Homo sapiens: one gene and its partners. The protein of the gene in region 2 purifies or fractionates together with the protein of the main gene of each other region. This does not show direct contact. Each region holds a gene or a part of one and is shown on either strand. Other genes may lie near its edges.

Evidence for each region.
Region 1: the proteins of DDX54 (region 2) and MYO1F purify together in Homo sapiens (affinity purification with mass spectrometry; one large-scale study listed by BioGRID and IntAct). This does not show direct contact.
Region 3: the proteins of DDX54 (region 2) and LSM14B purify together in Homo sapiens (affinity purification with mass spectrometry; one large-scale study listed by BioGRID and IntAct). This does not show direct contact.
Region 4: the proteins of DDX54 (region 2) and YY1AP1 purify together in Homo sapiens (affinity purification with mass spectrometry; one large-scale study listed by BioGRID and IntAct). This does not show direct contact.
Region 5: the proteins of DDX54 (region 2) and RBM27 purify together in Homo sapiens (affinity purification with mass spectrometry; one large-scale study listed by BioGRID and IntAct). This does not show direct contact.
Region 6: the proteins of DDX54 (region 2) and CLTCL1 purify together in Homo sapiens (affinity purification with mass spectrometry; one large-scale study listed by BioGRID and IntAct). This does not show direct contact.
Region 7: the proteins of DDX54 (region 2) and LYAR purify together in Homo sapiens (co-immunoprecipitation; 2 studies listed by BioGRID and IntAct, with this or other methods). This does not show direct contact.

What each region holds. Positions count from the first base shown.
Region 1 is NC_000019.10:8,546,183-8,550,423, forward strand, and holds part of MYO1F (unconventional myosin-If), read right to left. Parts: intron 4,175-4,241; coding exon 3,978-4,174; intron 2,136-3,977; coding exon 2,055-2,135; intron 1,941-2,054; coding exon 1,854-1,940; intron 1,144-1,853; exon of another isoform or gene 1-1,143. UniProt on the Homo sapiens protein: Myosins are actin-based motor molecules with ATPase activity. Unconventional myosins serve in intracellular movements. Their highly divergent tails are presumed to bind to membranous compartments, which would be moved relative to actin filaments.
Region 2 is NC_000012.12:113,171,626-113,175,866, reverse strand, and holds part of DDX54 (ATP-dependent RNA helicase DDX54), read left to right. Parts: intron 1-709; coding exon 710-831; intron 832-930; coding exon 931-992; intron 993-1,095; coding exon 1,096-1,227; intron 1,228-3,303; coding exon 3,304-3,514; intron 3,515-4,241.
Region 3 is NC_000020.11:62,128,522-62,132,762, reverse strand, and holds part of LSM14B (protein LSM14 homolog B), read right to left. Parts: intron 3,839-4,241; coding exon of another isoform or gene 3,731-3,838; intron 2,979-3,730; coding exon 2,811-2,978; intron 2,545-2,810; coding exon 2,467-2,544; intron 2,234-2,466; coding exon 2,072-2,233; intron 1,408-2,071; coding exon 1,257-1,407; intron 408-1,256; exon of another isoform or gene 1-407. UniProt on the Homo sapiens protein: mRNA-binding protein essential for female fertility, oocyte meiotic maturation and the assembly of MARDO (mitochondria-associated ribonucleoprotein domain), a membraneless compartment that stores maternal mRNAs in oocytes.
Region 4 is NC_000001.11:155,674,647-155,678,887, reverse strand, and holds part of YY1AP1 (YY1-associated protein 1), read left to right. Parts: intron 1-2,141; coding exon 2,142-2,340; intron 2,341-3,791; coding exon 3,792-3,878; intron 3,879-4,241. UniProt on the Homo sapiens protein: Associates with the INO80 chromatin remodeling complex, which is responsible for transcriptional regulation, DNA repair, and replication. Enhances transcription activation by YY1. Plays a role in cell cycle regulation.
Region 5 is NC_000005.10:146,209,541-146,213,781, forward strand, and holds part of RBM27 (RNA-binding protein 27), read left to right. Parts: intron 1-4,241. UniProt on the Homo sapiens protein: May be involved in the turnover of nuclear polyadenylated (pA+) RNA.
Region 6 is NC_000022.11:19,281,274-19,285,514, reverse strand, and holds part of CLTCL1 (clathrin heavy chain 2), read left to right. Parts: intron 1-4,241. UniProt on the Homo sapiens protein: Clathrin is the major protein of the polyhedral coat of coated pits and vesicles. Two different adapter protein complexes link the clathrin lattice either to the plasma membrane or to the trans-Golgi network.
Region 7 is NC_000004.12:4,283,418-4,287,658, reverse strand, and holds part of LYAR (cell growth-regulating nucleolar protein), read left to right. Parts: intron 1-1,086; 5' UTR 1,087-1,140; intron 1,141-3,863; 5' UTR 3,864-3,916; coding exon 3,917-4,038; intron 4,039-4,241. UniProt on the Homo sapiens protein: Plays a role in the maintenance of the appropriate processing of 47S/45S pre-rRNA to 32S/30S pre-rRNAs and their subsequent processing to produce 18S and 28S rRNAs. Also acts at the level of transcription regulation.

The DNA of each region.
Region 1 (4,241 bases), on a different chromosome or scaffold from region 2:
GCCTCCCGAGAAGCTGGGATTACAGGTATGTGCCACCACGCCGGACTAATTTTGTATTTTTAGTAGAGATGGGGTTTCTCCATGTTGGTCAGGCTGGTCTCGAACTCCCAACCTCAGGACATCTGCCCACCTCGGCCTCCCAAAGTGCTGGGATTACAGGCATGAGCCACCGCACACAGCTTGCTTTTTTTTTTTGAGACCGGGTTTTGCTCTGTTACCCAGGCTGGAACTCAGCGATGCGATCCTAGCTCACTGCAACCTTGACCTCCAGGGTTCAAGTGATCCTCTCATCTCAGCCTTCCGAGTAGCTGGGACCGTAGGAGCACACCACCATGCCTGGCTAATTTTTATGTTTTTTGTAGAGATGAGGTCTCACTATGTTGTCCAGGCTGGCTTTGAACCCCCAGGCTCAAGCGATCCTCTTAACTTAGCCTCCTAGATAGCTGGGACTATAGGTGTGAGTGATTGTGTCTGGCTCGGTCTGTCTCTCTCTTTTTTTCTTTTCTTTTTTGAGACAGGGTCTCATTCTGCTGTTGCCCAGGCTGGAGTGCAATGGCACAATCTCGACTCACTACAAGCTCTGCCTCCTGGGTTCAAGCAATTCTCCTGCCTCAGACTCCTGAGTAGCTGGGATTACAGGTGCCCAGCACCACACCTGGCTAAGTTTTATATTTTTAGTAGAGATGGGGTTTCACCATGTTGGCCAGGCTGGTCTCAAACTCCTGACCTCAGGTGATCCACCCACCTCAGCCTCCCAAAGTGCTGGGATTACAGGCGTGAGCCACTGCACCCAGCCTCTCTCTCTCTCTTTGTTAAAAAAATCCCTGTCTCAGGACTGGGCATATTAACTCATGCCTGTAGTCCCAGCACTTTGGCAGGCCAAGGCAGGAGGATTGCTTGAGGCCAGGAGTTCAAGACCAATCTGGGCAACAAAGTGAAACACCAACTCTACAAAAAAGTTTTAAAATATTAGCCAGGCATGATGGTGTGTGCCTGCGGTCCCAGCTACTTGAGAGGCTGAAGTGGGAGGATTGCTTGAGCCCAGGAGGTGTAGACTGCAGTGACCTGTGATCACACCACTGCACTCCAGCCTGGACAACAGAGCGAGTTCCTGTCTCAAAAAAAAAAAAAAAAAAAAAAAAGCGGGGAATGGTGGCTCCCATCTGTAATCCCAGCACTTTGGGAGGCTGAGGTGGGTGGATCACGAGGTCAGGAGTTTGAGACCAGTCTGGCCAATATGATGAAACCCTGTCTCTACTAAAAATACAAAAATTAGCTGGGCATGGTGGTGGGTGCCTGTAGTCCCAGCTGCTCGGGAGGCTGAGGCAGGAGAATCACTTGAACTCTGGAGGCGGAGGTTGCAGTGAGCCGAGATCATGCCACTGCACTCCAGCCTGGGTGACAGAACGAGACTTTGTCTCAAAAAAAAAAAAAAAAATCCCTGACTTACTTCCTCAGTCTCCTCTTGGAGCTTCCTGGGATTGCCTCCCAGAAAAACCATTTGTCTCTGAATCCTTGCCTCAGGCTCTGCTTCTGGGGGAGGGGCAAAATGAAGACAGCAGGGACTATTGCCTTATTGTTCATGGCTGTGTCTCCAAGCACCCTAAACAGTACCTGGCACACAACAGGTGCTCAATAAATAATTGCTGAATGAATGAACTAAGAGGCACGGTCCTTCCCAAAGCTTTAGAGGCAGAAGGAAGTATCACTATGGAGCCTGGGTAGGTTGGCACAGAGAGGTGGGAACGCGGTGGGGAGGGCTGGGGTGTCCCCTAGTTGCTAAGGGATCCTCATGGTCCTTCCACCCCACCCCCACCCCAGGATCCCCCATCCCTGACTGCTTGGCCGCCCACCTGCTCGGCCTTCAGGGTAAGTTCGATAAAGATTTGCTGCAGCTTCTCATTGACGAAGTTGATGCAAAACTGCTCGAAGCCATTTTTCTGCAGAAGGAGGAAAAGGGTCCTTCCCTCAATGTCCTGGTGCTGGAAGTTCTTGTGGCCACCCTGGGCTGCCCCAGGGAGGACAGGATGTGGGCTGGAGGCAGGGGGCCGTACCTGGAAGATCTCGAAGCCGTAAATGTCCAGCACACCGATGCTGTACTCTTCCTGGGGTTTCTGCATAGCACGGTTGATGGCCTGCGGTGTGGGTGGGGACAGGAAGTCAGTGGGCATCGGTCAGATCTGAAGCCCCTGCCCACCACTCCTTAGACACACGCCTAGCCAACTTCATGGGTGATGTCCCCTCATGCCAGTTTCCCTCCAGCCCTCTTTAGCTCTGCCCTTCCTGGCTCTGTGTACAGTCTCCCCACCCCATAATCAGTCACTCAGAGGAGAAACCCAAGTGTCAGTGTATCAGGGTCCCTGACTCCAGAGCTGACTCTGCCCCTGAACCTCTCTGCACCTCTATTTTCTTTTTTTTTTTTTCTTTTTTTTTTTTGAGACGGAGTCTCACTCTGTCGCCCAGGCTGGAGTGCAGTGGCATGATCTCGGCTCACTGCAAGCTCCGCCTCCAGGGTTCACACCATTCTCCTGCCTCAGCCTCCCAAGTAGCTGGAACTACAAGGGCCTGCCACCACGCCCGGCTAATTTTTTGTATTTTTAGTAGAGACGGGGTTTCACTGTGGTCTCGATCTCCTGACCTCGTGATCCGCCCGCCTCGGCCTCCCAAAGTGCCGGGATTACAGGTGTGAGCCACTGCGCCCGGCCTTGCACCTCTATTTTCTTATCTTTAAAAGGGGTTGATAATAGCAACTACCTTATGGGGCTTTTTCTTTTCTATTTTTTTTGAGATGGAGTCTCATTCTGTTGCCCAGGCTGGAATGCCAGTGGCGCAATCTCGGCTCACTGAAACCTCTGCCTCCAGGATTCAAGAGATTCTTCTGCCTCAGCCTCCCAAGTAGCTGGGATTACAGGCATGCGCCACCACGCCCGGCTAATTCTTGTATTTTTAGTAGAGACGGGGTTTTGCCATGCTGGCCAGGGCTGATCTTGAACTCCTGACCTTGGGTGATCTGCCCGCTTTGACCTCCCAAAGTGCTGGGATTACAGGCATGAGCCACTGCACCTGGCCATACATTTTATACTTTATTTATTTTTATTTTTTATTTTGAGACAGGGTCTCAGTCTGTTGTCCAGGCTGGAGTGTAGTGGCTTGATCATGGCTCACTACAGCCTCAACCTCCTGGGGTCAGGGATTCTTCCACCTCAGCCTCCTGAGTAGCCGGGATTACAGGCACCAGCCACCATGCCCGGCTAATTTTTGTATTTTTGTAGAGACAGGGTTTTGCCATGTTGCCCAGGCTGACTCCATACATTAAAAAAGTTTTTATTTTATTTATTTATTTATTTTGAGACAGAGTCTCTCTCTGTTGCCCAGGCTGGAATACAATAGCACGATCTCAGCTCACTGCAACCTCCACCTCCCAGGTTCAAGTGATTCTCCTCCCTCAGCCTCCCAAGTAGCTGGGATTAAAGGCATGTGCCACCACTCCCGGGTAATTTTTAGTAGAGAGGGGGTTTCACCATGTTGGCCAGGCTGGTCTCAAACTCCAGACCTCAAGTGATCCATCCACCTCAGCCTCCCAAAGTGCTGGGATTACAGGCATGAGCCACTGCATCTGGCCAAAAGTTTTTTTTAGAGACAGGGTCTTGCTCTGTCACCCAGGCTGGAGTACAATAGCGCAATCATAGCTCACTGCAGCCCCAACCTCCTGGGTTCAAATGATCCCCCAACCTCAGCCCTCTGAGTAGCCAGAACTACACATGCACACCACTACACCCAACTAATTTGAAATTTCTGTAGAGATGGGGGTCTTGCTATGTTGCCCAGGCTGGTCTTGAACTTCTGGCCTCAAAGAATGCTCCCAACTCAGCCACCCAAAGCATTGGGATTGCAGCCGTGAGCCACTGCACTCAGCTTCCATAAATGTTTGTGACCCCAGAGCATCCACTCTGCCTTCCAGCCCCAGCCCCACTCGCCTCCACGAGGAAGTCGAAGAGGCGGGCATAGAGCCCCTTGGCCAGGGCATCACGGGTGTAGGCTGCCTGCTCCACGTTGAGGGTCACATTGATGGACTCGCTGCGCCCGCCCCAGCGGCTGTCCATCTTGCGGCTGGTCAGCTTCTCCTGCAGTCGCCCGCTGTCAATGCCCAGCAGGTAGGCGGGAAAGGCCAGGACTACCAGGGCAAAGGTCAGGGCAAAAATGGGACAGTTGGTTGGGCTCTTGTGCCTCCTGCATGGGCC
Region 2 (4,241 bases):
ATCCTCCCATGTCAGCCTCCTGAGTAGCTGGGAATATAGGCATGCGCCACCATGCCCAGCTAATTTTTTTTTTTTTTTGAGACGGAGTCTCACTCTGTTGCCCAGGCTGGAGTTCAGTGGCATGATGTCGGCTCACTGCAAGCTCCGCCTCCTGGGTTCACGCCATTCTCTTGCCTCAGCCTCTCGAGTAGCTGGGACTACAGGCGCCCGCCACCACGCCCGGCTAATTTTTTTGTATTTTTAATAGAGACGGGGTTTCACTGTGTTAGCCAGGATGGTCTCGATCTCCTGACCTCATGATCCGCCCGCCTTGGCCTCCCAAAGTGCTTGGGATTACAGGCCTGAGCCACTGCGCCCGGCCCCAGCTAATTTTTTATTTTTGTAGAGATGGGATCTCGCCTAGGGTGTTCTTGAACTCCTCCTGCCTTGGCCTCTCAAAGTGCTGGGATTACAGGTGTGAGCCTCTGCAGCCAGCCTGGGCTGCTGTCATTTATTTCAGCATGAGTTTGTAAGAACATGACCAAGACAGATTCCAGATTTCAAGGTTATTGTTGTTTAGGATGAAGTCACGTGATAAGTGTGAGTGGGCTGAGTTAGAGTGAGGCAAGCCCTGGGACACTGCAGAAGTTGTGGGGACAAGGATGGCTGCGGTTGGAACTCCAGGGAGTGAAGGCCCCCTCTGACCCAGTCCTGCCCTCTACCCTTCCAGGCTTTTTGAAATGGGTTTCGCAGAGCAGCTGCAGGAGATCATCGCCCGCCTCCCCGGGGGCCACCAGACGGTGCTGTTCTCCGCCACGCTGCCCAAACTGCTGGTGGAATTTGCCCGGGCTGGTGCGTGAGCTGGGGGTGGAGATGGGGGCTGGGGGTCAGGCTGGGGCCTGGGGGCCAGTCCCTCTGCGACTCCCCCACTTTCCCCCATGTCTCCTGCAGGCCTCACGGAGCCCGTGCTCATCCGGCTTGACGTGGATACCAAGCTCAACGAGCAGCTGAAGGTGAGGCTGCACCTGTCCCATCCCAGGAGGTTGTGTCCAGGTGGGCCCTGCAGGCCCTGGGCCAGGACCCCGTAAGCCAACACGTGATGCCCTCTCCCCACAGACCTCCTTCTTCCTCGTGCGGGAGGACACCAAGGCTGCCGTGCTGCTCCACCTGCTGCACAACGTGGTGCGGCCCCAGGACCAGACCGTGGTGTTTGTGGCCACGAAGCACCACGCCGAGTACCTCACTGAGGTGAGCAGGGTCCTGAGTGGGAGGAGCACCTCCTTCAGCTGGAGTTTGGAGCTGCAGTTCCCTGTGCAGTCACTAGAGGGCAGCACGAGAGCGGACCAGGAGCCTGGGCCTGGGCTCAAGATGGTCATTTTTATTTTTATTTTTTATTTTTTTGAGACGGAGCCTCGCTCTGCCATCCAGGCTAGAGTGCAGTGGCACAATCGTGGCTCACTGCAGCCTTGACCTTCCAGGCTCAAACAATTCTCCCGCCTCAGCCTCCCGAGTACTTGGGACTTCTGGCGCATGTCACCATGCCCAACTAACTTGTTACTTATTTTTATATTTTGTAAAGACAGGTTCTCACTCGGTTGCCCAAGCTGGTCTTGAACTCCTGGGCTCAGGTGATCCTCCCACCTTGGCCTCCCATAGTACTGGGATTATAGTACTGGGATTATGAAAACATTTCTTTTTTTTTTTTTTTGGAAATGGTATCTCACTCTGTCGCCCAGGCTGGAGTGCAGTGGCACGATCTCAGCTCACTGCAACCTCCACCTCCCAGGTTCAAGTGATTCTCCTGCCTCATCCTCCTGAGTAGCTGAGACTTCAGGCGCCACCATGCCTGTCTAATTTTTGTATTTCTCATGGAGACGGGGTTTTGCCGTGTTGGCCAGGTGGGTCTTGAACTCCTGACCTCAAATGATCTGCCCGTCTCAGCCTCCTAAAGTGCTGGGATTACAGGTGTAAGCCACAGCGCCTGGCCTAAACTTTTTATTGTGAGAAAATTTCAAACCAATTCTAAGATCAGAAAATAATATGATGAACCCCGGGTACTCGTTATCTAGGTACAACTGTTACCAGCTGATAGCTGGTCTTGACCTTCATCCGTTAGTTCCCCTTACATCCGGGTTATTTTGAAGCCTGTCCCTGCCATCCTGTTATTTTCCTGTAGATTTTTAGTATGTGGTTTGTTTGACTTCTTAAGATTGAGGCATGACCTGCATGTAGCAAGCTGTGTGAAGCGCTGTTAGCATGTGTGAGTGGCTCAAAGATTTTTTTCATATGTGTTATGCCTGTGTGACCCCCGCCTGGGTCAAAGCCTGGGGAGTCGCTGTGCCCCAGAAGGCAGTGGGGCCCCTTTCCGTTGGTGCCTGCCTCCCTGTCAGCTACACCTGGGTCTGTTATCTGAGGACATGGTTCACTGGGTTTCACTTACTCCACACACAGTTAACAACACTCCCTCTGTGCAGCTGCTGGGGTCACCAGTGAATAAGACCAAAATAGTAATTTTTAAACAGTTGTTTTTTTAGAGAGAGTTTTGCTCCTTTGGCCAGGCTGGAGTGCAATGGCATGATCATGGCTTACTGCAACCTCTGCCTCCTGGGCTCAAGTGATCCACCCACCTCAGCCTCCGAAGTACCTGGGACTGTAGGCACAAGTCATGCCTGACCATGCCAGCTCATTTTTTATTTATTTTAATTTTTTTTGTAGAGATGGTGTCTTGCTGTGTTACCCAGGCTAGTCTCGAGTTTCTGGTCTCAAGTGATTTTCCAGCCTTGGTTTCCCGAAATGCTGGATTACAGGCGTGAGCCACCATGCCCAGTTTAAATAGTAATCTGTAAAGAACAGCTAGCACTCTCATGAGTGTTCCATGTTGAGACTCTGTTCTCAGCACTGTATATACTGACTCATGTGATCCTCATAATAAGGCACAAAGAAGGGGCAGTTATTCGTACAGATGAGGAAAATGAGGCATAGAAAAGTTTGGTAACTTGCCCAAGGTCACACAGCTTGTTTGTAGCAGAATCCGGATAAGGCTTGTGCACTGAGGTGGCATTTGCAGCTTCCCTGAGAGGGCCCTCTGCACACATCATCTCTGATCCTCAGACAACCCTGCAGAGAGGTGGGAGGTGTTGTAAGCTCCATTCCTCCCCAAACTGGCATCACCCAGCAAGCTGGGATTCAGACCAAGGGTGCCAGACTCCAGAACCCGTGGTCTTGTCTCTGCACCTCAGTGCCCGTCCCCCGCCATGGTCTGGCTTCCTTTCCTTTCTCCTCCAAGTCTCCTTCTCACTTTGCTACCATCTTTGCTCTGAGCAGCTGCTGACGACCCAGCGGGTGAGCTGCGCCCACATCTACAGTGCCCTAGACCCGACAGCCCGCAAGATCAATCTCGCCAAATTCACGCTTGGCAAGTGCTCCACTCTCATTGTGACTGACCTGGCCGCCCGAGGCCTGGACATCCCGCTGCTGGACAATGTCATCAACTACAGCTTCCCCGCCAAGGGCAAACTCTTCCTGCACCGCGTGGGTAAGCAGCCCGTGGCTGGCCCTGGGGCAGGCAGGGGTGCCGGATCCTGGCAGAAGCCGAGGGTACAAGGCTTAACTCTTGACACTGCACATGGGGTGGCTGTGGGCCTTGTTTTAGAGACAGAGCCTCGCTATATTGCTTAAGCTGGTCTCAAACTCGCGATCGTGCCACTGCGATCCAGCCTGGGTGACGGAGCAAGATCTTGTCTCAAAAAAACCAAAAAAAAAAAACAACCCAATTATTCAGCTTATGGTTTTTTTGACTTTACAATAGCACCCATACAGCTGTTCTATTTTTTTCTTTCAGTACAGTATTCAATAAGTTACATGAGATACTCAACACTTTATTTTAAAATCGGCTATGTGTGGGATGATTTTGCCCAAGGGTAGGCTAATGGAAGTATTTGGAGCATGCTCAAGGCAGGCTGGCTGAGCTGCGATGTTTAGTGGGTTAGGTGCCGTGCGTGTGTTTTTGACGGCTATTGGGTTTATTGAGACGCAGCCCTTCGTAAGTCACGGAACAGCTGTGGTCTCATTTCAGAGATCACTGTCCCCCATTGCTCTCTGATGACATGGCCGTCATTTTGGTGTGTGTCCATTCTTCTGATGTTTCTATTTTAAGTTGTGGTAAAGTAGACATAGCATGCAATTCAGCATTTTGCCATTTCCCAGTGTGCAGTGGAGTGGCATTGAGTCTGTTCCCATTGTGCAACTGTCACCACCATCTG
Region 3 (4,241 bases), on a different chromosome or scaffold from region 2:
TCCCACCCAGCACTCCTACCGACGCAGACAACAGCTCCAGCAGCACACCCACCCTGAGCTCCTCTTCAGCCGGAAACCTGCTGCTCCCACAGACTTCCGTGTTCAAAGAAACAGCAACTCCACCCATCAGCCGCCCAGGCCAAAAGACTTAGGAGTCATTCTGGACTCTTCTCTTGTCATGTTGGCCAATTCTGTTAGCGCCACCTTCAAGACACATTTAGACTCTACTCCTTCCCTCTGTCACCACCACTGCCTGGTTCCAAGCCACCTGTGCTGCAGCACTGGCCCCTAACTGGCCAGTCAGCAGCCACACTTGCCCACCGTCCAACCACTCTCACCAAGGACGCCGTAAAACATCAGACCGCACCACGCTTCAGCACAAAACCCTCTGATGGCTTCCCGCGGCACTTGGAACAAAAGCCAAAGTCACTGCCATGCCCTACAAAACCCTACAGGAACCCATCCCCCAGACTCGGCCTGTCTGGAAGCACTTCCCGCACTCATCTGCGCAGCCTGCTCTGCCTGTGAGAACTGATCATCCACTTCCCATCGAGTTACAGCCCCATCCCATCGCCCTCACTGCCTGGCCTTCACGACATGCTGTTCTATTTTTCCCCTGGCAGAACATGAACCTGAAGAGGTGGCGCTCTCCAGCCTGCCTTCTGAGGCCCCCTCAACGCCCCGCGGCATGTCTGGCGCTCAATCTGCAGGACAAATGGGCCCAAGTTTCCAAGCCAGGCCCACACTGTAGATGCCACCCACTCCCTAGGGTGCTTCGCGGGACTTCTGACCAGCTGTTAGGTGTGAAAAATAAAACACACCACATGGTCCCTGGCCTCAAACAATGAAGTGAAGGAAAGCCAGTGTGAGCACGTTCTAGCCATACCTCAGGCTGCTAAGCAAGGACCTCAGGCTGCCAGGCCAGCGGGACCAGCAAGCAGAGCACCGTGAGGTATGCTGAATGTGGACACGGGTCTGCCGGGGGGGGCGGTGCAGCCCAGCCTTTGTGGGGACAGGGCAGCAAAGCCAAGAGGAAACAGGCTCGACCTCAGCCAACTCCTCGGGTCGGGATCCCCAAGAGGCTTCCCACACGCAACCTGCTGGGACTCCGGCACCCATCATGCAGAAACGCAAGCAGGACCCTAGAACAGCTACCCTGAGCCTCAGAGTCCAGCTCTGCCCTCAGGTTGAGAGCCCTCAGCCCTGTCCTTTCTAGATTGGAGGACTGTCCTCCCCTCATTCATTCAGCCTCTCACCTGGTCTTGAGTTCAGAAGAGATGTTGTCGAAGAACGACTTGGATTTGTCATAGTAGCAGTTGGGCCCCAGAAGGTCTTCCTCAGCGGGCGCTTCGGCACTCTGGGTCACCACAGCCAGGTCCTTCTCTTCCCCCTTCTCAGCCTTGTCATCTACAAAAAGAAGCAGAACACGTGGAGATGGAGGAGGGGCAGAGCGCACAGCCTTTTAGCAGGGTGGTCCCTCCGGGCTCACTCGGAAGCCACCCTCAAGCTAAGACATCAACTATGCCTTGTGCAAAGCAGAAATCTCTTCTTCTACCTTCTAAGTACAGGTCTCGTTCTGCCGTCTGGGCTGTGCAGTCTGCACCTTATCCCACCCATTTTCACACCTCCCAGCACCTCACTTCATTAATTCCTCACTGCCGGTCACCATCCGCCTGGCATCCCCGGTTCCTCTAGGCATCTCTTCCTTTTCCTTGAGACAGAGTCTTGCTCTATCGCCCGGCTGGAGTGCAGTGGCGCAATCTTGGCTCACTCCCACTGCAACCTCCACCTCCTGGGTTCAAACGATTCTCCTGTCTCAGTCTCCCGAGTAGCTGGGATTACAGGCGCCCACCACCACGCCTGGCTAATTTTTGGATTTTTAGTACAGATGGGGTTTCATTGTGTTGGCCAGGCTGGTGTTGAACTCCTGACCTCAGGTGATCCACCCACCTCAGCCTCCCAAAGTGCTGAGATTACAGGCGTGAACCACCACACCCGGCCAGGCATCTCCTCCTAACACTCTCTAGGGGTACTCCTGTGCAGAGAATAATTTTCATATAATGAGCCAAACCTTTAAAATTCAGTTTCTTCTTAAATTCTTTGTCAAGCTCCTCTCGGTTGAACTGGGCATTTGCACTCTCGAAATCAAAGTCACCCTCAAATTTGATTGTGTTTTCCTTAACGTTAGTTGGACGGTTTTGCCCTCTGGAGCGATTCCTTGTTCGCCTGTTTCCTGTGAGGACAAAGGACAGCCCTGGCTGAAGTAGGTCACCAACCCAGTGATCTCAAACACCTCACAAGGAATTTCCAGGCACACCCCCAAGGCCACAGAAGGAACAGAGCACACAAGCAGCGACTTCACACCAGCACCCCTGAAACCGTCAACCAGAGAAGCAGGCAGGAGGGCAAGCAGAGCTCAGCCTGATCACTCGTGGTCCCCAGAAATCAAGTGGCAACAGGTGTTACCTGATCGCCTCCTCTGAGGTCTTCTGTTCTCGTCATTCACCTGCCCTTGAGCTTGCACAGCTGCCGGCTGGACTACATCTACGGCGCAAAAGGGAAGAGTAAGGCAAAGCTCCTATAGCAGCCGGAAGCCAGAACCCAGCTGTGGAAGCAGGCCCCACCACCATGGGGCACGCGGCCAGGGCGGCACCGCAGGAGGCTGCTGCACAGGCCTGCCCTGCAAAAGCACATGGGGCTTAGGATGGGGGAGTAGTATTTTTTTAATTAAAAAAAAAAAAATAGCCCAGGAAGTAGTGTGCCACTTTTAGAACATCAAGCAAACTCCAGGAAATGATGTGTTCAAGTACCGCTGGCCGTCTTGCTGCTCGGCTGGGCCTGACGACCGTTGAGCTGCGTCCCTGTGGTGCCCTTGCCAGGTAACAGCTTTTTAGCATTCAGGTTGTCAGCAGAACCAGTCTGCACAGCCTGCTCCACCATGGGGCTCTTGCCGACTGGGATGGATGGAAAACCAGCTCCTGAATTGAGGAGGGGAGGAGGGTTTAAAAACAGAGAGAAAAGAAGCAAGCCTTATATCTCCAGGCATTTCTCTTCTGCTGGCATGTCAGGAAGGAAAGGAGGGCAACTGCCTAGATGTTCTATCAAATCCAGGCAAAGCACCCCCAGACTGGGCCATTCCCTCTGAGGCTAGCCCAGGCAGCAAAAGAAGGCCAAGAGTCACTGGGCAGCACCAAGGCCAGTTCATCTTTGGACTCCCCACTCCCAAAGCCCTGAGCTTCCCAAGTTAGGGAACCTCAAGGACAGGAAAAACACCGTGCCTACAAACAGGCACCTCCCCAGAAGTGTGGAAACAGCTTTCTTAAAACCACACAAGCTCCAATCCCAAAGGAGCTCAGCAGCCCCAAGATCCTGATGAATTCAGGATCTGAGAATTTGTTTCATTCTGGTCCACACTGGAGAAGAACCAGCCCAGCCTGGGATTTTCTAGAAAATGCAGTGAACAAATTCTGAAGTTAAATTCTACAACACTGTCATTTCCACTTAAGGCACAATAAAACTAAAAATGATGAAGCAGGAGCTGACTTCCGAGACGTAGCAGCCTACACTTCTCTCAAGGGCAAAGGCTCATCATGAAGACACAAAGGGCTCCTAGGTAGCCTTTGGCAAGGGGCTATGCCTATGAAACTGCAGTCCGAGGCCCACGCACAGGGGATGAACCCTCAGAAACCAGGCCCTCTGAATCAGGAGGAAAATGGGAAGCACCACCCACCTCTCTCCATCTCCTCCCTTTCCAAGGTTCCAGGACCTGTAGGGACTCTAAACAGGACAATGTGGGACTGGGTGTAAGTGAACAGAGATCTGAAACAGAAAAGGCACCCTAACCACAGGGTAATTATTATTAGACGAACAGCCCAATACACATGAAGACTGGGCATCTCATCTTACTGCTTTTACGGAATAGAAATGAAAAAAAAAATTGACTGTAGAAAAATTCCTTGTAACCAGATCAAGAGAAGCTCTCAAAGGGCAGGTTGGAACGACTCTGCATAGAGGTCTGGAAAGTGTCCTCTGGCGGGAATGCACCCGGGCCACTTTCTCACTGATTGTCTCACTCAGCATGTCCGGGAGACAAACACAGCACTGCCTGCCTGCTGATCATACTGTGACTGCAGGGGCATGGATAAGGGGCTTGTCTGCTTTTTACACAACCAACTAGTTCAAACAAAGTCTTGCCCTATGAGCAGGTTTAGGTAACTGATCCTAAGAGCAATAGAAGTATC
Region 4 (4,241 bases), on a different chromosome or scaffold from region 2:
CATTTTGTGGTGGATTTGCATCTGCACTTTATTCTGTTGTAGCAGCATATAATCATTAGGTCGATGGCGAGAGGTCAGGATGCAGTTTGTGCCATAAGTGGAACAAAGCAAAGAGAATAGTCCCTGTAATTAGTCCTGTGTTTGAACTTAACAGCACTACTAAGCAGAGAGCTTGGGTTCCATCTGAAAGCTAGACCTTTAGGGATTTTCCAATTTAGTGAAAAAAGATAAGATAGGCCAACCAATGTCTTAAAAACTAGAACTACTAGTCATTCTCCATTACAACAAATATCACAATACAACTACATCAAAAATCTCAAGATTGCTAAGTCAGTATTTGACCCATTATTTTAATTTATAGTTCATAGAACAAAATTCTGGTATAGCAGAATGGAACCATTCATCCTGGGAACGTATAATAGGATCTGATTAATAAATATTTTGGTTTTGCTGATCAACTCTTTATAACTTCTTAAAATTTGGAAAATATAGAACTAATTTAAAATTCCTGTTAGAATCCAGTTACCTTCTGGTATTCAATGGAATATAGTCATATATCATCTCATGGTCATACCCTCTGTGAAATCTATCATTAAACGATTCATCATTGTGTAAACATCGTAGAATGTACTTACATAAACCTAAATGGTTTAGCCTACTGCATACCTATTGCTCCCAGGCTACAAAACCTGTACAGTGTGTTACTGTACTGTACTGAATACTGTAGGCAGTTGTAACACAATGGTAAGTACATATGTATGTAAACATAGAAAAGGTACAGTAATCTTATGGAGCCACCTCTGACTATGTGGTTCGTTATTGACTGAAACATTCTGTGGCGCATGACTGTACTTGGGCAGCTTCTGCTTCTCTTTCGATTGCAAATACAAACCTGTTTTTGTTTTAATCTTTGACTAAATAAAAATCCCTCTGTAAGTCCATAGAGAGTAAGCACATCTTAAAACACAATAAGGAAGAGAGAGGAGAAAAAGACAGTCAAAACAAAAACTCTGGGGCTTCCCTTATCAATTACCTAAATAATCCTTGTTAAAACTAAGTGCAGGCTATGTTTCCATTTTCTACTTTTTTATGCTTCTTCTCTTCTGTTCCTTCAGTGGTGGTAGCGCGGATGTTCAAATTTTCAGTTCTCAGTAAAGATTGTATAGACAGTCCCACGGTCTTCAGGTTTTTACTCTGTGCTACCCAAACCTACAGTAAATACTATAAAAGAAAACTTATTCAAACGTAATCTTTATCTGCAAAAACTATTGAAAAACGTTACCATTTAACTATTGCTGTAATATAGGGGGTTCCTTGAAATATGATAACCTGCTTGTTATAGCTACTTCAGCAGATCTTATCCTGTTGCATAGGGTATCAGCATATGCTTAATCATTTAGGTATATTATTCTCCCTTTATTTCTTTCTATGTAAACATAGAAAAGGTATAGTAATCATACATAGAACTGACATGCTAGGTATTGGAATTTTTGCTTCAGCCCTGCAAACAATCTTTCAGGAGGGTATGGATGGGAAGTTAGGGTTAGGAACCTTGGAAGAGGAATTTAAAGGGCTAAAAGAAGATAGCCTTCATGGATAATATTTTAACTAACTTCTCCGTTCTGTTCATTTGAACTACCATGTACTTCAGTTATTTTGGTATATCCTTTTCCTGCTTCATGCTAGAAAGTCTTTGACTTGTTAAGAAAGCAGGGCAGTGCAGCCTGAGTAGATAGGATAATGGGACAAGCTGGACCTGGGATGGGAGTAACATCCCAGGGAGTAACAAGTAATGAGAGAAGAAATGAGAATGATGAGTTCCCACCAGCTCCTTGGCTGCTTTCTTACCCATATATTTCTCTGTCCCTAGTTTTTTGTTTAATTTTTTCTTCATTTGTATATTATTTGGAAGAGGAATTGTAGAGGAATGGGATGGGGTGTAATACAGAATCATTTGATGCATGCTAACTACTTTGGGAAAAGATTTGTGTAAGGCTGGGAGTTTGACTGTTGGCTAAAGTGAAAAGGGGGGATTAGTAGGGAATGAAAATTGTTCAGGCTCTTTGCTCATCATTGCAAAGAATTGGATGTGTTGTGGACCTAGGAAAACACTCAAATTCAGTCATCCCCGTTTGGGATAGGTTTGAGGAACTACTGGCCAACCTACTAAATGAACAACATCAGATAGCGAAGGAACTATTTGAACAGCTGAAGATGAAGAAACCTTCAGCCAAACAGCAGAAGGAGGTAGAGAAGGTTAAACCCCAGTGTAAGGAAGTTCATCAGACCCTGATTCTGGACCCAGCACAAAGGAAGAGACTCCAGCAGCAGATGCAGCAGGTAACACTTTCCTTGGTCATATTAATATTGAATTATACCAAGGCCTAACTCTGAGGCTTTGGTATAATCTAAAATTAGCAGCTTTGTAAATGTCAGAGATAGTTACCTTACTACGTATTAAAACCGTAGTATCTTCACATCAGTTAGGAGCTTGAGAAGTCATCATGTTCATGTCCTGTGGCTCAGGGAAGACAGCACATAAGGACCCTAATGGTATTCGGAATTACAGATTTCAAAGAGTCCTCAGTAATCTATTCTGAAATTTAACCTTCACTGTGACAAGTAGTTTTTTTTCCCTTTTCCCTTTTCTTTTTTCTTTTTTTTTTGAGACGTAGTCTCGCTCTGTCACCCAGGCTGGAGTGCAGTGGCTCAATCTCAGCTCACTGCAAGCTCTGCCTCCCGGGTTCACGCCATTCTCCTGCCTCAGCCTCCCGAGTAGCTGTGACTACAGGGACTCGCCACCACACCCAGCTAATTTTTTGTATTTTTAGTAGAGACAGGGTTCACTGTGTTAGCCAGGATGGTCTCGATCTCCTAACCTCGTGATCCACCCGCCTCGGCCTCCCAGAGTGCTGGGATTACACGCGTGAGTCACTGCGCCCGGCCTTTTCCTTTTCTAATCTCAGTTCCTCCTCTGTTTAGAGGTTAAACTTCCTCTGGTTCTGTCATTTTGTTCAAGGGAACATGTCTGAGAAATTTATGCCAAGATCCTACGTTGTTCTCACACTCTTTGCAGAAAGCAAAATTTGTGTCATAAAGTTGCAAACATCTTAGTTAATGACTCTCTGGTGGCTGGGTGCAGTGGCTCACACATGTAATCCCAGCACTTTGGGAGGCTGAGGTGGGAGGATTGCTTGAGCAGGGGAGTTCAAAAGCAGCCTGGACAACATAGTGAGACTCTGTCTCTACAAAAAATAAAAATAAGGCTGGGCACAGTGGCTCACACCTGTAATCCCAGCACTTTGGGAGGCCAAGGCGGGTGAATCATGAGGTCAGGAGTTTGAGGCAAGCCTGGCCAACATGGTGAAACCCCGTCTCTACGAAAACAAAAAATTAGCTGGGTGTGGCGGCGGGCACCTGTAATCCCAGCTACTCGGGAGGTTGAGGCAAGAGAATCACTTGAACCTGGGAGGCAGAGGTTACAGTGAGCCGAGATCACGCCATTGCACTCCAGCCCAAAAGTCAGTGCGAGACTCTGTCTAAAAATAATAATAATAATAATAATAAAATAAATTAGCCAGGCATTGTGGTCACAGCTACTTGGGAGGCTGAGGTGGGAAGATTGCTTGAGCACAGGTGGTTGAGAGGGCATTGAGTCATGGTTGCACCACTGCACTCCAAGCTGTGTGACAGAGCAAGACCCTGTCTCCAGGGGGAAAAAAAAATATCTCTGGGCTCCTGAAATGGCAGTGTCATAACATATCACTGCATTATTTTCTTTCTCTCCCCAGCATGTTCAGCTCTTGACACAAATCCACCTTCTTGCCACCTGCAACCCCAATCTCAATCCGGAGGCCAGTAGCACCAGGATATGTCTTGTAAGTTTCCAAATTGCCGTAATTCTATAGACTAGAATATAAAATTAGCTTGGCAGGTTATTTCTCACAGTTATTCTCTCAGGTATTTTTGATTGCTGTGGCTTCCTATGTTTGCTGAGTGAACATAAGCCACTGATTCACATGAAAGGACAAAGAGTGTATTCAATTTTTTCTTTTCTTTTTTGAGACAGGGTCTTGCTCTTTCACCCAGGATGGAGTGCGGTGGAACAATTTCAGTTCACTGCAACCCCTGCCTCCCGGGTTCAAGTGATTCTCCTGCCTCAGCCTCCCAAGTAGCTGGGACTACAGGCGGGCACCACCACGGGTAATTTTTTTTGTATTTTTAGTAGAGACAGGGTTTTG
Region 5 (4,241 bases), on a different chromosome or scaffold from region 2:
TTTGGTTGAACTCTAGAGTTTACATGTTGCTGTATGTTGGCAGTCCTTATCAAATTGAACTCTGGATAGTAATCTCTGCAGTTGCCCAAATGGGAGGAAAAATAATTATCTAGCAATTTTTGGAGCTGACCACCTGGTAAATAAACTACCAGCGTTAAATAAGTATTTTGGAGGTATATTCTTAAGTTTGGGAAGTACTGGTAATTTTCGAAGTGTACTTAGTTGCTTCAGAGAATTAGTGTGTCTCTAAAGTGCTGTGGGACTTAAGGATACCATTCACTATTTCATAGAAAAGAACTTTGGCCAGAAGACTTCTTGGCAAGTTTTAGTCTACTAACTTAAGAACATATTTGTTCTTATGTCCTTTGGTCTGCCTTTTAAAGATGTCTGACTTCATCCTTCCTGGCCCAATAACTATAGGCTAAAGCCAGAAGTTGCCTTTTTAGCCCTGTGTTTCTTGCCACTGTCTTCTCTTATCCTCTTACAGTGTTGCTACTTACTTCCTTATTAATCTCTTTTTATACAATGTATTATTTTGTACTGTAATTATTTGTTTTCGTATCCACCTCTTGGCCATGGGCGTGCAGGGCAAGGTCTGTTTTGTTTAAAGTAATTCCATTACCAAGCAATATGCTTGGCACTTAGTAAACACTCAGTATATGTTTAAATGAATGAACATTCTCATATGTATATACAGGTAATTGACAATTAGAAAAGTAAGAATTTTTTAGTAGTCTAATTTTGTGCATGTATTTAGCTAGTGGCTACTATACTAGGAGCTATGGTCCAAATATCCAAATGGTATTTGCAACTGATGAATGTATGTATATATTTTCCTCCCAAATAAATCTAGGGTTATTTCTTCCACATGATACTCATTCATGAAAGCCCCTAATTACTTAAGGGGAAGATGAAAGTACTATGGTCTGAATGTTGGTGTCCCCTCAAAATTCATGTTGGACATCTCAAAAAAAAAAATATGTGAAAGGAGCCTGCTTGTTACCATGAGAGGACACAGAAGGTACCATCTGTGAAGAATGGGCCCTCACTAGACTCCAAGTTTGCTGATGCTTTAATCTTGAACTTCCCAGCCTGCAGAACTGTGAGCAATACATTTCTGTTTATAGCCGGGCACGGTGGCTCATGCCTGTAATCCCAGCACTTTGGGAGGCTGAGGCGGGCAGATCACGAGGTGGGGAGATGGAGACCATCCTGGCTAACACAGTGAAACCCCGTTTCTACTAAAAATATAAAAAATTAGCCGGGCGTGGTGGCGGGCGCCTGTAGTCCCAGCTACTCAGGTGGCTGAGGCAGGAGAATGACGTGAACCTGGGAGGCGGAGGTTGCAGTGAGCCGAGATTGCGCCACCGCACTCCAGCCTGGGCGGCAGAGCGAGACTCCGTCTCAAAAAAAAAAAAAAGAAAAATTCTGTTTATAAATTGCCTAGTTGGCTGGGCATTGTGGGCTCATGCCTGTCATCCCAGCACTTTAGGAGGCTGAGGTGGGTGGAGCACTTGAGTCCAGGAGTTCGAGACCAGCCTGGACAATGGGGCGAAACTCTGCCTCTACAAAAAAATAAAAAAAATAGCCTTAGTCAGGCATGGTGGTTCACACCTGTCGTCCTACCTACTTGAGAGGCTGAGGTGGGAGGATCACTTGAGCCTGGGAGGTTGAGGCTGCAGTGAGCTATGATCAAGCCACTGTACTCCAGCCTGGGCAACAGAATGAGACCCTGTCTCAAAAAATAAATAAATACTAAATTGCCTAGTCTAAGGTATTTTGTTATAGTAGCCCAAACAGACTAAGAGAGAAAGTTTTCATTTGAAAAAAAGTAGAAGTACCAATATATGTGTATCTTTAATAAATATTAACAAATGTGAAAGTCAACTCCATTTTTACTTACTTTGTCCAGTATGGTCTTATCTTTTTTTTTTTTTTTTTTTTTTTTTTTTTTACTTTGAGAGGAGTTTCGCTCTTGTTGCCGAGGCTGGAGTGCAATGGCATGATCTCGGCTCACCACAACCTCCGCCTCCTGGGTTCAAGCTATTATCCTGCCTCAGCCTCCTGAGTAGCTGGGATTACGGGCATGTGCCACCACACCTGGCTAATTTTGTATTTTTGGTAGAGACAAGGTTGCTCCATGTTGGTCAGGCTGGTCTCGAACTCCTGACCTCAGGTAATCCGCCCCTGGGATTACAGGTGTGAGCCGTCAGGCCTGGCCCAGTATGGTCTTACCAAAGGGATAATCTGAACACAGATCTCAGAGTCAGACTTTTTTTAAAATTCACTTTCATTCTTTTAAAATAAAAATAAGCGTATTATTGCATTATGACAGTATAGAAAGTAGAGAAAAGAAAATTATTAGTATTTATTTTGTTTTTCTTATGTGTATGAATTTTTATATAGCTACAGTCAGACTCATTGTAAAATTCTGATTTCTTTGACATTACATCAGAAGCATTTTTCACATTTATATATTGCTTTTATAACCATCACTTTGGTTTTTTTGGTTTTTATTGTTCCCGCCACCCCCGAGATGGAGTCTTGCTCTGTCACCCAGGCTGGAGTGCAGTGGCGCAATCTCGACTCACTGCAGCCTCCGCCTCCCGGGTTCAAGTGATTCTCCTGTGTCAGCCTCCCAAGTAACTGGGATTACAGGCACGCGCCACCACGCCTGGCTAATTTTTGTATTCTTAGTAGAGATGGGCTTTCACCATGTTGGCCAGGCTGGTCTTGAACTCTTGACCTTGTGATCCACCCGCCTTGGCCTCCCAAAGTGCTGGGATTACAGGCGTGAGCCACCCCGCCCGGCCCTTGTTTTTTATTAAGACAGGGTTTTGCTCTGTCACCCAGGCTGGAGTGCAGTGGCATGGTCATAGCTCACTGTAGCCTCAACCTTCCAGGATCAGACAATCCTCCCACTTCAGCCTCCTGAGTAGCTGGGACTATAGGTGCATGCCACCACACCAGGCTAATTTTTTTATTTTATTTTTTTAGAGATGGAGGTCTCACTATGTTGCCCAGACTGGTCTTGAATTCCTGAGCTGAAGCAATCCTCCCACCTCAGCCTCCTGAAGTGCTGGGATTACAGGCATGAGCCACTGTGCCTGGCCATAACCATAATTTTTTAAAAAACATTTGTTTATTGTATTATATTGTATTATAGTATATTACATATATATTTTTTGAGATGGAGTCTTGCTTTATTGCCCAGGCTGGAGTGCAGTGGCGTGATCTCAGTTCACTGCAACCTCCGTCTCCTGGATGGATTCAAGCGATTCTCCTGCCTCAGCCTCCTGAATACCTGGGATTACAAGCACCCACTACCGTGCCCAGCTAATAACCATCACTTTGGATGCCTAATATTTCACAAACATCCAACAATAAGAGAATGGTTACCTTGGCACTATTTTTTTGTTAAAAATTAATGCTGTTTTTATTTAATAAATATATTTTGTGTGTGTATAGCTTTAGGTACTAGTAATATTTTCTATATATGCCTTTATTTCCTTCGTCTAGTTTATCATAAGTGTAACTACTGGTCAGAGAATATGGATTTTTTTTGTTGTTGTTGTTGTTGATATGGAGTTTTGCTCTTGTTGCCCAGGCTGGAGTGCAATGGCGTGATCTTGGCTCACTGCAACCACCGCCTCCCGGGTTCAAGCAATTCTCCTGCCTCAGCCTCCCGAGTAGCTGGGATAACAGGCATGCACCACCATGCCCAGCTAATTTTGTATTTTTAGTAGAGATGGGGTTTCTCCATGTTGGTCAGGCTGGTCTCAAACTCCTGACCTCAGGTGATCCACCCTTGGCCTCCCAAAGTGTTGGGATTACAGACGTGAGCCACCACGCCCAGCCAAGAGTGTGGATATTTTAATGGCTGTTGATACACATTGAGATCAGGAGATTTTTTTTTTTTAAGCTGTGGCTCAGAAGCACATGTATTAGTTGTTTCACCTCTGAAAGAAAGAGCACATTAAGATGGAACTTAAAATTAGATCCATATTCAGAAACATGTAAATTTTTCTGCAAGTGGGAAAGGTCTAAGTAGTCTTGGCTTTTTTCCTAAAGCAAGTAAATGGTAATGGTTTTTCAGTAGTGTTTTTTGGCTTGGGGCCAAAGGTGTAGGACCTTACTCTTTGATCTTATGATTGCATGTCTGAAATTTTCTATGAAGCTTATGTACTGGCTCAGCAGTTGTGTAATATACGTGCAATAGAGATTTCATTAAAAGGGGAAAA
Region 6 (4,241 bases), on a different chromosome or scaffold from region 2:
GAGTCTTGTGCACTGGTGTTAAAATAAAGAAAACCTGTAATAGTGTAATTTGAGAGAAGTTCTGTAAAGCATTATATAAATGTAGTTAACTATCCCTGAACTAACCTACTCCTGGAATGTAAGTTCTGGAAGAGACCTTAGTGTCAACATTCTTCATAGGCCCTCATTTACAGAGCTCCCTCTTTAGGCTAGGAAAGGCTCTTTGGTAAGTTTCTTTTTCTTTTTCTTTTTCTTTTTTTTAAGATGGAGTCTTGTTCTGTTGCCCAGGCTGGAGTGCAGTGGCACAATCTCGGCTCACTGCAACCTCTGCCTCCAGGGTTCACGCCATTCTCCTGCCTCAGCCTCCCGAGTAGCTGGGACTACAGGCACCCACCACCACGTCCAGCTAATTTTTTATATTTTTAGTAGAGACAGGGTTTCACCGTGTTAGCAAGGATGGTCTCGATCTCCTGACCTTGTGATCCGCCTGCCTCGGCCTCCCAAAGTGCTGGGATTACAGGCGTGAGCCACCGCGCCCAGCGTGTTTCAAATATAAAATGTGTTTTTTATTTTATTTTCTTGAGACAGAGTCTCGCTCTGTCCACCAGGCTGGAGTGCAGTGGCATGATCTCAGCTCACTGCAGCCTCTGCCTCCCCGGTTCAAGCGATTCTCCTGGCTTCAGCCTCCTGAGTAGCTCGGACTACAGGTGCGTGCCACCATGCCTGGCTAATTTTTGTATTTTTAGTAGAGATGGGGTTTCACCATGTTGGCCAGGATGGTCTTAATCTCTTGACCTCGTGATCCGCCCACCTCAGCCTCCCAAAGTGCTGGGATTACAGGTGTGAGCCACTGCACCCAGCCCATTTATTTTTTTGAAACAGAGTTTCACTCTTGTTGCCCAGGCTGGAATGCAATGGCGTGGTCTTGGCTCACTGCAGCCTCCGCTTCCCGTGTTCAAGTGATTCTCCTGTTTCAGCCTCCCAGGTAGCTGGGATTATAGGTGCCCGCCACCACACCCAGCTGATTTTTGTATTTTTATAGAGATGGGGTTTCATTATGTTGGCCAGGCTGGTCTCCAACTCCTGACCTCAGGTGATCCACCCGCCTCGGCCTCCCAAAGTGCTGGTATTACAGGCGTGAGCAGCCACGCCAGGCCCTCAAAGTATGTTTTAAAAACTGTAGATGAACTAAATTTTACTGCCCTGAAACAAGTAATTTGTTTTACTATTTGTTTACCATCCATATGCTAGGCACAAGGATAAAGCAGTGAGTGAGACTGGGAAGGAGACAGATACAGAAAGAAAAAATATTGGTGTCCACATAGGTGTGAAAACATGGGGATGTTCAGTGCAACTTAAGCATTCTGGCTTCACTGATGTAGGCAGTTGATGTTCTCACTAATACTCTTGTACAAACACAGTTGTAGTCCTCCCAGGCAGACATCTTCCTTAAGCCCCTTATACATAGAAACCACAGGACTATCAGATGAGTAATTTCTTTTTGCATATTCCCCAGTGTCAGATTTTTTTTTTTTTTTTTTTTTGAGACAGGGTCTGTCTCTGTCACCCAGGCTGGAGTGCAGTGGCACAATCTTGGCTCATTCCAGCCTCTGCCTCCTGGTTTCAAGCGATTCTTGTTCCTCAGCCTCCTGAGTAGCTGGGACCACAGGCGTGTGCCACCATGCTCAGCTAAGTTTTTTATTTTTACTAGAGACAGGGCTTCACCATGTTGACCAGGCTGGTCTCGAATTCCTGACCTCCAGTGATCTACCCGCCTCGGCCTCCCAAAGTGCTGGGATTACAGGCATGAGCCACCATGTCTGGCCCCCATTGTCAGATTTGAATTTTGATTGATTTAATTGCAGGCTTTGAGAACTGAAAAGGATCATTAGACAGCATCTTCTTTACCTTTCTTTAGTTAAATCTTATATATGCCATTTAAAATGTGTAGCTAAGGTCCAGTGCAGTGGTGCATGCCTGTAATCTCAGCACTTTGGGAGGCCGAGGAAAGTGGATCACTTGAGACCAGGAGTTCAAGACCAGCCTGGCCAACATGGCAAAACCCTGTCTCTACTAAAAATACAAAAATTAGCCAGGTGCAGTGGCGGACACCTGTATTCCCAGCTACTTGGGAGGCTGAGGCATGAGAATCGGTTGAGTGTGGGAGGCAGACTTTGCAGTAAGCCAAGATTGCACCACTGCACTCCAGCCTTGGCGACAGAGCAAGACTCTGTCTCAAAAGAAAGAAAAAAAGAAAGAAAATTTTTTTAAAAATGTGTAGCTAGGTTACCTATCAGAATAATATACTAGGGATCAGGAATCCTTGGTTATTTCTACTAACTAGTGAAAAAAAAAACAAACCTGGGCCAGGCCCTGTGGCTCACGCCTATAATCCCAGCACTTTGGGAGGCCGAGGCGGGTGGATCACTTGAAGTCAGGAGTTTGAGACCAGTCTGGCCAATGTGGTGAAACCCCGTCTCTACTGAAAATATGAAAATTAGCCAGGCGTGGTAGTGGGCACTTGTAGTCCCAGCTACTTGGGAGGCTGAGGCTGGAGAATCACTTGAACTGGGGAGGCAGAGGTTGCAATGAGCCGAGATGGTGCCACCACTGCACTCCAGCCTGGGTGACAGAGTAAGACTCTGTCTAAAAAAAAAAAAAAAAGGAAAGAAAGAAAGAAAAAACCTGGCTTTTCAGCACATCACTTTTCTGGGACTTAGTTCCTGCGTATGGAGAAAAACTCACAGTAGTATCTGGCATCTTAGATGGAAAAGTTATTTTTGTGGGATTGTCCTGTATTGAGCATTCCTGGCTAAATGAGTAGAGAATGAGTTCCCCACTCATTGTACTATTAAAACTACCCTTGCCCATTTCTTTTTTTCTTTTTCTTTTTCTTTTTTTTTTTTTGAGACAGAGTCTCGCTCTGTCGCCCAGGCTGGAGTGCAGTGGAGTGATCCTGGCTTGCTGCAGCCTCCACCTCCTGGGTTCTCCTGCCTCGGCCTCCTGAGTAGCTGGGATTACAGGCACATGCCACCAGGCCTAGCTAATTTTTGTATTTTTAGTGGAGACGGGGTTTCACCATGTTGGCCAGGCTGGTCTTGAACTCCTGATCTCAAGTGATCCACCCGTCTTGGCCTCCCAAAGTGCTGGGATTACAAGCGTGACCCACTGCGCCCGAACCCATTGCCTATTTCTTTTTTTTTTTTTGAGACGGAGTCTTGGCTCTGTCGCCAGGCTGGAGTGCAGTGGCGCGATCTTGGCTCACTGCAGCCTCCGCCTCCTGGGTTGAAGCAATTCTCCTGCCTCAGCCTCCCGAGTAGCTGAGACTACAGGTGCACGCCACCATGCCTGGCTAATTTTTGTGTTTTTAGTAGAGACGGGGTTTCACCATATTGGCCAGGATGGTCTCCATCTCTTGACCTTATGATCTGCCCACCTCGACCTCCCAAAGTGCTAGGATTATAGGCGTGAGCCACCGTGCCCGGCCGCCCCTTTCCCATTTCTGAAGAATGCAGAATAGCACTCCTGGTTGAGAACTACTGTCTTAATTTAATCTGATTCTAATAGTCTTTATCTTATTTTTGGATCCACTCTTCTCAGTTGTTAAAACACTGTCTTATTTGTGAGGGACTTTTACCTTTTTCAAATGCCATACATGTGTATGTATGCTCTTAGATAAGGAACTTGACTCAGCTACTATTATTTAAGAACCCACTATGCTCAAGAGATTGGATACAAATTATTCAGGATTACCAATTCTTGGTATTTGGAGTTGAAATCAGAATGTCACCGTATTAACCCAACATCGATCCCCAAACTGAGAACAAAAGGACAATTTAGAAAACCCAGGCCCACTTCAGTGCACTGCTCTGTCTGGAGAGCATCCAGTCCTATCCTGCTAAAGCCGGAAAATCCAGATAGGTAGACAAGACCAAGAATGATTGCTTACCAATACGTGGCCAGCTTTGATTTACTTACGTCTCCGATCACTGCCAAATTTTATTGAGGCCAATTCCAGACATCTTGTTTTATCCTTAAACACTTTAGGATGTGTCACCAAGAGAGAACTCTTTGTTATTTTTTTCCAAGTTTTAAAATTGTGGTAAAATATACATAACATAAAATTTATCATCTTAACCATTTTTAGGTGTATATTTTAGCGATATTAAGTACATTCAAATTGTTATGCAGCCATCACCACCATCCATCTCCAAAACTCTTTTCTTTTTTTTTTTTTTTTTGAGACAGGGTCTCGCTCTGTC
Region 7 (4,241 bases), on a different chromosome or scaffold from region 2:
TGCCACTTACTGTGACTTCGGGCAGTTCACTTACCCTCCTGAGCCTTAGGTTTTCTCTCCAGATGGAGGTAGTATGATCATAGCAGTCTTAGTGGTATTGGGGGCAGTTGTGTTCATAAATGGGACACGGCTTTGTAGAGAGCTAATGATCATGTGTTCTATGGTGCAGACCCCGTCATCTTTTTCATGGGTATGGCATGTGATGAGAGCTCAGTAAACTGACCATACAGACAGACGAAGACGCAGCCAGGAGCACACGCAGAGGACCTGCGTGAGGGCCCCAGGTGTATCTGGGTGGATAGGATAGTGTCAGCATTCAGGAAATGTCTGCCGAATTGAGTTAAAGTGACTGAGCAAGAACCGAAGTATGCTCTCAACCAGTCCAAGAACACTGCCTTCTGCCTGCCTTTCTCTTTTAACATGCGCATGTGGCCAGAAGGAAAGCATGTAGAATCTCTCTGGCTGCGCTGGGACTGGACATTGGGCAGAGGGAGTTGGGGAGCCAGGGAAGGAAAAGAGGACTCTATTTAGATCCAGCCCCATGAAAAAACTGCTGTCTTTTTACACTTAGGGCTAGATGTTGAAATCTGTCACATCTGAGCCCGGCAGACTGGGTGTCCTCAAAATCTTAATGCAGTTTTAAGCTTTCATAATTTCAGAAGCATAAATGATCCAAACTTGCCAAAACATCATTTAAAATTTAATTAAGGCCGGGCGCGGTGGCTCACGCCTGTAATCCCAGCACTTTGGGAGGCCGAGGCAGGCGGATCACGAGGTCAGGAGATTGAGACCATCCTGGCTAACACGGTGAAACCCCATCTATCTCTACTAAAAAATACAAAAAATAAGCTGGGCGTGGTGGCGGATGCCTGTAATCCCAGCTACTCGGGAGGCTGAGGCAAGAGAATGGCATGAACCCGGGAGGCGGAGCTTGCAGTGAGCCAAGAATGCACCACTGCACTCCAGCCTGGGCGACAAAGCGAGACTCCTTTCTCAAAAAAAAAAAAAAAAAGTTTAATTAAATTTCCTTCATGCTTATCTAGTCTTGTGGAATTTGAACAATACCGTTTTACTTTTTTGTTTTAGGCAATGTTTGCTGTCTTCCATTGGAGTGACTGAATTTCTACATGACGGCTTTTTGTAAGTTTGTAGTATTTACATTTTTGTTTTAGGCAATGTTTGCTGTCTTCCATTAGAGGGACTGAATTTCCACCTGACGGCTTTTTGTAAGTTTGTAGCATTTACGCTTACGAATATTAAGCCTGCACTAAGACCTGGGACACCCTGTCTGCTGTGCAGTTAGGCTGACTTTGAAGCTTCTGATGGTTTTGAGCTTTTCTTTGAAGCCCAAGCAAGTGTTTATGGCATAAATTACAGGTATTTTCGCCTGGGGCTAGGTTGGGTTTGAGGTGTAATCAAGGTGCTGGACTGTCCTCCAGGCTCTGAATAAAGGAGAGGTAAGCTCCTTACAGACATTAGCTCATTAGCCAAGCAAGTGGACACAGAGCTGTTCCCATTTCATGGCAAGTGTAAAAATCCGGAGGAAGGCAGGAAGAGACAGTTCTGACTTCCTGTGCAATCCACCCATTTGGCCTTAAACAAGTAAAGACCAAATGAAAATGATGTGAGAGTTATTTTTTAGCTGGACATGTAACCAGATTCTAATCACCTTCTGAATTGATATTTAATTACACTGTAGTGTGTAGCCGATCTCCAGAGAGATAGAATGTTTGGCACAGTTACTCTTGAGTATCTTTTTGTCAACATCACTGCTTTCACTGCTTCTTTCAGTCAATATATTTTGTTTCCAGCTTCCTTCCTAGGCCTTTAATTCCTGCTGGGACAGGAATCTCTCAATTCACTCTTAAGCCTTGTCGAAACCTTTCTTCCTCCCATCTCCCACTCCATCCAGAAATAGAATTGTCCTCAGCAACAGAGGTTGGCAAGCTCTAAGCCGTATCTAAGTTTCAGAGACTGTTTTTTGTTGTTGTATCTTATTAGAAAAGTGCTTTAACGTTTTTCAGCAGATAATTTGGCATATCACGGCTGCTTTCACCTTGTGCCTGTGATGACAATCTATTTCTTGGTGACTAATAAGTTATTCCTGCTCTTACACCAAAGTGCACCTCCATGCTCTTTGAGAATGTGATGTTGGCTCTTATTCCAGCCTTTGTTCTCCCTTGTCAGGCAGGATAGCTGCTCTTGTTGCCTGACATGTTGATCATCCCTCTGCCTTTTTTTAGAATGGTAAGCTTTGAGGGAGCTGGGTTGTGGGAAACGTGATTCCAGCTCCCAGGAGCTTGACAATATCACACATCTTTACAGTAAGCAGATGAGAAGATGACAGTTGCTGCAGCACATCGAGGGTAGTCATGTTTTCCTTCCTGAGGATTTGGTGCTAGGTTGTAGCTGACCACATGCTGTCCGTTTACTAACATACACTGATAGTGAGCTGAGGAGCGGGGCCTGGGACCGCGGAATCAGGGGTCTGTGGTTTGTATGTAGCGTAGAAGCTGAGCTGATGTCTGATAGTGTCCCACAGGGCAAGAGGCCTCCACAAGAGACCAGCTGGACCTTTGTGAACCCTGGAGATGCAGCCAGGATGTACATTTCCATTCAAGGCTGAATGGACATGAATAACCTTGGTCGTTGCTTGGGTGTGGCCTCACTGGCAGTGATCCAAAACATGCTGGTGGAGGAGCAACGGTGATTTCATGCATGGGAATTCTCTGCAAACCAAGGGTAGATCATTTGTACTGAAAGCTTGTTGGATGAAGTCCTACCCTGAAGTAAATTGCATCGGTTTACTTGACCCTCACCTTTATTTTCCTAATGAGGAAGAAAGCTCTGGGTTAAACAGTTCTCAGTATTTTTGCTGTAAAACTTATAATGTAAAACAACAATGCTGTTTTAAAATCTAGTGATTAAAAATTATGTAAGTATGGAAAATTACTGTGACTTCTCTAACACTTCTAGACGAATTTGTGTTTTCCTGAGCACGGTAGCATTTCTGTGAAATTTTACAATGATGTTTATGTGCGTGTGCAGACATACTTCTTTTTGGGGCAGTGCTCGGGACACCTGGGTTTGTGAACTCCAGTAATTCAGCACCCAGCAGTTGGGACACCTGGACTTGGTTCCGTTTCTTTCTGACTTGTCTGACAAGCTGCCACATGAAGAAGGCCCCTGTCCATTACAGCTGAGGCGCATGTCCTCATTTTAACCTTTGTAGATATATAGTAATATTGATATGAATGCTTTTAGTGCCATAGAAATTGTGCCCATAGAATTGCCTCTTCTTCACTTTCTAAACTTCACTCAGTTTTCCTCTTGCTGTGTTCTTAGTATATTTGAGGACCTGAAATAGTTTGTAGTGTACACCTAAATTGCAATGCCTTCTATAAGTTTCATATACAGAGAGAGAGTTTAAGGTATTATGGAAAGTAAGATTTAACACCCTCAAAGCTCTTCATCTTGAGAGCCAATCTGCCAGGTTTAAATCCTGGTTCTGTTAACCGTGTATCCTTGGGCAAGTTATGTAATCTCTGTGTCTCAGTTACCTCATATAAATTTTGAACAATAATAGTCCTTCCCTCATAGGGTTACTGCGGGGATTGAATAAGTGAATAAATGTAAAGCCTCTAGAATAGTGCCTGGCACGTGGTAAGGACACAATAAATGTTAGCCATTCTCATTGTTAATGTTAGTTTTACTTATATGAATGGTGGAATTTTATGTAGATTGCTAATCAACTTTGACTCTGTTATTTTCATGTGAAATTATGGTTGAAAAGTTAGGGGCATGAGCCATTTATTGAAATGAGAAGTTTCAGTTTATAATTATAATTGTCTTTTTTTCCTTAGGACAAGACTTAAAACCTGTCTTGGATAGAGAATATTTAGCCATTTACCTAAAAATGGTATTTTTTACATGCAATGCATGTGGTGAATCAGTGAAGAAAATACAAGTGGAAAAGCATGTGTCTGTTTGCAGAAACTGTGAATGCCTTTCTTGCATTGACTGCGGTAAAGATTTCTGGTAAGCTTCACAGAATTCATGTAGATCCATAGTAAATCCAGATCAGTTTTGGAAGCCTTGGCGCCACAAAGCTTGGAAAAATAGTGGCAAATTTGAAGAATGAAATTAAGACTAAAAACTGGTATGTTCCATTGATTAAAACTGGTGTGATTCTTTCAAATGTGCTTTACTAGGCCGGGCGCAGTGGCTCAGGCCTGTAATCC